Homo sapiens: one gene and its partner. The protein of the gene in region 2 interacts with the protein of the main gene of each other region in a pairwise test. Each region holds a gene or a part of one and is shown on either strand. Other genes may lie near its edges. The genes, in order: SRGAP2B and WASHC3.

Region 1 (3,816 bases), on a different chromosome or scaffold from region 2:
TTTGACCTCCATTGAAGGACAGTGTTCAGATTGTCATCAACAAGCAGAGAGAACAAAGAGGTACCAGAACAGGGAGCAAGGCTCTACTAACCCAGTGAGACAATGACACCTAGGGCATTAAGTGGCTGAAATCTACTGAATCAAAAATCCTCGGCTAAAGGGAGACAGGAATCTGTATTTTAGAGAAGTTCCCCAAGCAACTCTTACGTGAGGCCAGATTTTAATACCAGGGAATTAGTCCAGTTCTTCAGTTAGCTAGAGGAGCTTGGGAGTGGGTGAGAAACAAAGCTGGGTTCCAGAACAATTCAGTGACAAGCCTAGATGACCCAGGTGGTGATATAACAGCAAGACTCGGACCCAAATCCCATATGATGTTGTGAGGTGTGGCAGGTTTGCTTGTGGAGAAACCAAGGCAGGAAAGCAAGAGTGGTCGGGCCAGAGTTTTGCAAAGCCCAACTGCTGCCAACAAGACCCTGAAACAAATGGCAGGCCTCCAAGATGAGATACACTTGAAGCCCCAGAGACTGGGATGCTAAATTGGCTGGCTCCAGATGCCTCACTTTGATGACTGGAAGGAGAGGTGAGAAAGGGTGTAATTACATAGCTTCACTTAGGTGTGGCTCAGGACCTGGGCCAGATTGGAGTCTGTAGGTGAGAGGGCTTGTAAGACCCAACTGTAAGGGGAAGCAGCAGGAAAAACAAGGCCAAGAATAACTCACAGGCAAAAAACAAAAAGCTTATCCCTGCGCTTGCCCCTTGCAAAACACATGTGCCTATTAACCGCTTTCCTCAATCCCCTTTGCATCACATATTTTTAAAAATGGGCCAGATGTCAGGGGGAGCTGGATACCTTCCTGACAGGACCCTAATTTGCGCATAACCTTGGACAAGTGAGTCTCGTAGTCCTCTGGACCTTGAGCTTCCTTATCTAGCAACTGGAGACAGCAATGCTTACCCATAATGGTGATGTGAGAGTCAAATGAGTTAACACCGAGAAACCTTAAATGCTATACAAATATAAGGGATGGCATTGTAACTCTTTAGTTAAGTTCTTGCCACTCACTTCTGTGCAAGAGAAGCTGATGTAATAAAGTATTTCCTAGGTCGGGTGCAGTGGCTCACACCTGTAATCCTAGCACTTTGGGAAGTCGAGGCAGGTGGATCACCTGAGGTCAGGTCACCTGAGGTGAGGAGTTCCAGATCAGCTTCACTAACATGGTGAAACCCCATCTCTACTAAAAATACAAAAATTAGCTGGGCATGGTGATGCATGCCTGTAGTCCCAGTTACTGGGGAGGCTGAGGTAGGACAATTGCTTGAACCTGGGAGATGGAGGTTGCAGTGAGCCAAGATTGCACCACTGCACTCCAGCCTGGGGGACAAAGCAAGACTCTATCTCAAAAAAAAAAAAAAAAAAAAAAAAAAAGGAAGAAAGTATTTCCTGGCAGATAGACGAGTGTAGTGGTTATGAGCCTGGGTTGAGTCATCAGGCCTAGGTGCAAATTTTGCCTCTGTCATTTGTTAACTGACTCTGACTAAGTCATCTAAACTCTCTGTTAATCTGTAAAAATATAGATAATAATGCCTTCCTCCCAGAATTCCAGTTAGGATTGAATAAGTGTGAAGTGTTTCACTTGGTGCTTGGCAAGCACCCTGTTGGATCATGGCTGCTATCTTCCTAATTGTTCTCAAAATGCACCAGATTCCTGAACAATAGTATCAGGGAATGTCTGACGAGTATTCTGAAACCAGAAAAGAGGTGCCCTCAGGCCCTTGGCTTTAAGCACTTACATCAATAAGGTCAGATAGGTCATGGATGTAGTACTTGAAGACAGATGCATTGGTTGCCTCCAAAGCCAGCAAGTACTCATTCCGGGCTTTGATGGCCTTCAGCTTATTCTCCGTGTACTTGGCTTGGCGCTGAAAAGGAAACAGAAGTTCACTTTTACCTTTTTTTTTTAAGGGGGGCTTGTTCTCTAAAAGATAAAAGTACAGTGTATTCAAGAACTACAATTGTGTTGCTACTCCCTATGCGCATCTGCCTTAAATTGGGTTCTAATTCTGTTTAATGAGATTCAAGGGCACAATGTAGATCAATTCAGGAAAGGTTAATGAGGCTCCCTACTTAAGATGTGTGCCCCACTTTGATTCTATCTTCAAATATCATTCTTCATTCTTGCAATGCCACTCTGAAGGAGGTACCACTACTCTTGCCCCTGAACACCTGATACCTGAAACCAAATCCTGGGTTTACAGTCACCCCCAACCCCTCCAAAGCAATAGGATATTGAGCTCTATTTGGAAAATGGATTGGGAAAGGTGACTGCTGTTTCTTGGTTTTCTGCTAGAGGCTAGAAACTTGGAACCCACGTGCCCAGTTCTTCCAATACCTAGTATTCCTGCCAGGGCACAGAGCAAGGCCTCATTTTCAGTCATTAGGCACTAAAAGAACCCAGAGCTTCCTCGTCTGCTCTTCCCAGTGACTGTTGGGAAATTCCTATCAGCCATGCCTTACCGAATGTTGCTTCCCAGCATCTACAGCTGTGGGAGCCTACATACCTTCTCCTTCATCTTCTCAATCTTCTTCACTGAGCTCCTCCGGACATGTTTCTCCTCAATGCGAACGTTGGCCGTGGAGTCAGGGGAGCGTGGGGTCTGCCGGTCCTCCTGCTTTACCGATTTACCAATTTGCTTCTCCTCCTGCTTCTCCGCCTCCTTTAGTTTGCTCTGAGCACTGATGCTGTCGGCATTGTACATGTGATATGTCTTCATGACCTGCAAGACATCGCCCACCCCCACCCCCAGAGGTCAAGCCAAGGGTGTCATTTCTCTGCTTTACAGACTAACAGACTCAGCTGGAGCTCTCCCCCATGAAGCAATATCCTCACACCCCTAAGGGAAAAATCCAGAAGTGTTTGGTTCAGCAAACACAGATTAAAGACCACTCCAAAGCACAGGAAAGCAATATGTGAACTGAGCCAACATTTCCTCTTATTGAAATAACTTAATGTCTATCCATCATGTATTATTTATTTCTATTCATTATCATTTGTAATCACTTCTCTTTAATATTGGCCAGGTGATTTCTATCACTTAGTCACCTCATAATACTGAGTAGATGGGAAACAACACCACCACTCTCAGGCCCCAAGGGCAAAGCCTTTCTGGGCTGGTCAGGAACCCCGAAGAGGGCAGTGCAGCCTATGGAGTAGCCTATGCTTTCTGTTACCTTTCAGATATAAAATAGGGAAGAGGAAAAGCTTCCAAAAGCTCCTTTTACTGGCCTGGCATTCTGGGGATCTGTCTGTTCTGCTTTATCCAGATCAAACACCCTCTCACAGCAACTAAAGCAGCAGCAGCAATTGCAATGCCAGTTATCATTTACTGAGCACTTAGTATATTCCTGGCTTTATGCCAAGTACCACACAACACATTTTCTCATTTCATCCTTAGGACAATTCCACAATCTAGACAACAACCCTATGAAGACTGTAAGCCTTCAAAACAATTCAGGTAAGAGTCTGGGAAGGAATAAAATCCATATCAAGTATAACTGGAATTGCCACAGGAGGGAAGTAGTATAAAAGGTGAAGGATGATTTTCCATCAAAGCAACCATCTAGGAGTCCAATCCTTTCTCTTAACAGGGAAGCCAGGAAGCCTAGAACTCAAGCTTGTTTCCAATCCTACTAAACATACTACTTCCAGCCACCTAGTGCCTGCTCTACTCTGTGGGAACTTTCTGTTTCCACACAGGGAGTTCACGAGTGCTGAAAGTGTGATGCCATAAGATTTCTTTGAGAGGGAGAATTAGAGA
Region 2 (3,816 bases):
ATCTTAGTTTCTGTATCTGTATGAGTGGGATAACTAAACCTCTCTCAAAGGACTGACTGCGATAATTAAATACACATAAAGCACTTAGTATGATGCCCAGCACAGAGGAAGTACACAATAAATATTAGTTGTTATCTCATTGAGCAGTCTCCAGCTGACATGAATATCCAAATTGCTAAAATATATATTGTAGACAATCAGTTACAGTCAACCCTAGATTATCATACATAAAGGAGAAAAAGGTGGGACAACAGCAAGATGGGGGAATAGGACTTTCCAGCACTGATCCTCCCACAGAAACATCCATTTGAAAAACTATTCACGCACGAAAATACATTCTCAAGAGCTAAGGAGACCAGGTGAGAAATTACAGCACTGGGTTTAGCACAAAAGTAAGAAAAAACACACTGAAGAGGGTAAGAAGGACAGTTTTACAGAACTCATGTCACCCTTCCCCCAACTCCAGGCAGCACAGCATGGAGAGAGATACCCTCCAGGTGGGCGAAGGAGAGGCAGTGAGCACAGGACTTTGCCTTGGACCACAACACCAGGCCCACCCCAGCAGAACTCAGTGCTGAGCAAGCCCCCTCAGCCCAGACTCCAGGCTGACACCTGCAGGCGAAGCCTTTAGGCCCATCCTGGCACTAGGCTGGATCACCCAGTCCTGAGTTCTAGGCTTGTCCCACTGGGACCGTAGGTTCCAGACCAGCTCAAGGCTCAGGACAGTCCCAGCACCAGGCAAGACTGCATAGATTGTCTCCAGGTCTGCTCTAGGGACAGGCCAGCCCCAGTGGCCCTAGGTTCTGGACCAATCCCAGCACAGGGCTAGCCTCCATGGGCCCAAGGTTCAGGCCCACCCCAGCACCAGGTCAGCTCCTGCAGATATAGGTTCCAGGCCTGACCAGTGCCAAGTCAGCTCCTGTGGCCCCAGTCTGGCTCCTGCAGCCCATACCCTAGTGGAAGTAGGGTTTAGGCCCATCCCAGTAGGCCCTTCTGTTGGGCTGACACCCATAAACACAGGCTCCAGGACCATCCCTGTGGACTCAAGTTCCAGGCTAGCCACTATTGCCGTAGGACCCAGGCCAGCCCCATGTAGCCCAAGTTACCAGGCCAGCACCTATAATCTCAGGCTCCAGTCTGGCCCCTGTGACCCCAGGCTGCACACTTGCCCCAGCACCAAGCTGGCCCCAGACAAATCCCTGTGGTGAGTCAGGGTCTAGGTATGTTCCAGCAGACCCAGAGTCTGGGACCACCCCAGTAGATTGCATTGCCAGATTGGCCCCCATGGACGGAGGCTGCAGGACCACTCCTGCAGACTCAGGCTCCAGGCTAGTCACAGTACAACCAGGACCCAGGCCCACCCCCACATACTCTGGCTCCAGGTCCACCCCAGGGGTTCCAAGCACCAGGCCCACCTTGGAACCTGGCCAGACACTGCAGACTCAGGCTCAAGGCTCACCCCAGTGCCAGACCAACCCCTGCAGACTTAGGCTTCAAGTTGGAACCCTAAGGATCCAGGCCCACCCCTATAGAGCTAATCAGCAGGTCCACCCCAGTGGATCAGGCTCCAGGAACAACCCTACGAACCTAGGCACCAGGCCAGCCTACCCAAGGACTCCAGCAGCAAGCCTGCCATGCACCACAACAGATGGCCTGTCTAGAACCTCTGGATGAGCTTACTGGTGAAGGGCTTTCCCAGACAAAGCCAGTCTGCAAAGACTGGAGTAAGTCCTTACTTCTTCAAACACACACATACCAACACATGGCCACAAAGACCAAGAATAATCAGAGAAACACGTCACTACTAAAGAAACAAATCACCAGTAACTGACCCTTCTTCACAACGAATCCAAAATTATTGTTTTAGGGAAACTCAGTGGACTTCAGGAAAATTCAGAGAAACAATTCAATGAAATCAAGAAAATAATAAATGACCAAAATGAGAAATGTAACAGAAAGATTGGAATTATTATTTAAAAAATCAAACAGAAATTTTAGAGCTGAAAAAAAAATGTATACAGTCAAATTCAGAATATTCTAATACTGTCATGGTGATTAAATCACTTATATCTTTAGTATGAAAGTTAACAGACAAAACTATTAAAAATAATAATAGCTACAATAACTTGTTAAGGGATATGCAGTATAAAAAGATATACGTTGCAAAATCAAAAGCAAAATGTGGAGAGGTGGAGTAAAAGTGCAGAGGTTTTTTATGTTATCAATTATGTTATTATCAGTTTAAAATAGCCTGTTATAACATGTTTTATGTCAGCCTCATGGGAACAACAAAGCAAAAACCTAATAGTAAATACACAAAAGATGAAAAGTAAGGAATCAAAGTATATCACTAGAGACAATCATCTAATCACAAAAGACAGCAAGAGTGGAAGAAAGGAACAAAAGATCTATAAAGCAACTAGAAAACAATGAACAAAATCGCAGCAGTAAGTCCTTATCTATCAATAATTACCCTGAATGTAAATGGACTAAATTCTCTGATCAAAAGACACAGATTGACTGAATAGATACAAAAATAAGACCCAACTACCTGCTGTGTACAAGAGACTCACTTCACCTTTAAAAAATGGACACACATAGATTGAAGTGAAAGAATGGAAAAGAGCTCAGCACAGTGGCTCACATTTGTAATCCCAGCACTTTGGGATGCCAAGGCGGGAGGATCCCCTGAACTCAGGAGTTTGAGACTAGCCTGGGCAACATGGTGAGACGCCGTCTCTACAAACACCATGGACATATCATCCAGGCAGAAAATCAATAATGAAACACTGGCCCTAACAGACATATGTAGAAAATTCAATAAAACAGCAACAGAATACACATTCTTCTCAAGGGCACACAAAACATTCTCCAGGTTATATGATATGCCACAAAACAAATTTTAATACATTTAAGGAGACTGAAATCGTATCAAGTATCTTTTCTGACCATATTGGTTTGAAACCAGAAATCAATAATAGAAGGAATCTTGAAAAAAATCATAAATAACTGGAAATTAAATAACATGCTCCTAAACAACCAATAGGTCAAGTAAATTAAAAACGAAATTAAAAGTATTTTGAGACAAATGAAAATGGACATACAACACATCAATACTTATGGGAGGTGGCAAAAGCAGTTTTAAGAGGAAAGGAAGCTTCGGCAGTAAAGACCTATAACAAAAAAGATGAAAGATCCAAAGTGTAACATCCTAGTGTTACAACTGAAGGAATAGAAGAACAAATAAAACCCAAAGTTAGTAGAAGGAAAAAAATAATAATGATCGGAACAGAAAAAAATGAAAGAGACTAGAAAAACAATAGAAAAGATCAATGAAACTAAGAGCTGGATTTTTGAAAAGAAAAACAAAATCCACAAACTTTTAGCTAGATTAAGAAAAGGAGAAGATTCAAATAATATCAGAAACGAAAGAGATGTTACAACTGATACCACAGAAATACAAAGAATTGGCTTTTTCAGCCACAGAGCTCAATGCAGCTCAGTGACGTTATAAATGCTAATGAACTTAAGGTCTGATGTGTGTTTGAAAGAATCAGCGAAGCTTTTCTTTTTTCTTTTGTTTTGTTTTTTTGAGATGGAGTCTTGCTCTGTCACCCAGGCTGGAGTGCAATGGCGCAATCTTGGCTCACTGCAACCTCCACCTCCCAGGTTCAAGTGATTCTCCTGCCTCAGCCTCCCAAGTAGGTGGGAATACAGGTGTGCACCACCACGCCCAGTTAATTTTTGTATTTTTAGTAGAGACAGCATTCCACCATGTTGGCCAGGCTGGTCTCGAACTCTTAGCCTCAGGTGATC

The links.
Region 1: the proteins of WASHC3 (region 2) and SRGAP2B interact in a two-hybrid assay, tested with the Homo sapiens proteins (one large-scale study listed by BioGRID).

Annotation. Positions count from the first base shown.
Region 1 is NC_000001.11:144,903,300-144,907,115, forward strand, and holds part of SRGAP2B (SLIT-ROBO Rho GTPase-activating protein 2B), read right to left. Parts: intron 2,776-3,816; coding exon 2,560-2,775; intron 1,921-2,559; coding exon 1,792-1,920; intron 1-1,791. UniProt on the Homo sapiens protein: May regulate cell migration and differentiation through interaction with and inhibition of SRGAP2. In contrast to SRGAP2C, it is not able to induce long-lasting changes in synaptic density throughout adulthood.
Region 2 is NC_000012.12:102,051,772-102,055,587, forward strand, and holds part of WASHC3 (WASH complex subunit 3), read right to left. Parts: intron 1-3,816. UniProt on the Homo sapiens protein: Acts as a component of the WASH core complex that functions as a nucleation-promoting factor (NPF) at the surface of endosomes, where it recruits and activates the Arp2/3 complex to induce actin polymerization, playing a key role in the fission of tubules that serve as transport intermediates during endosome sorting.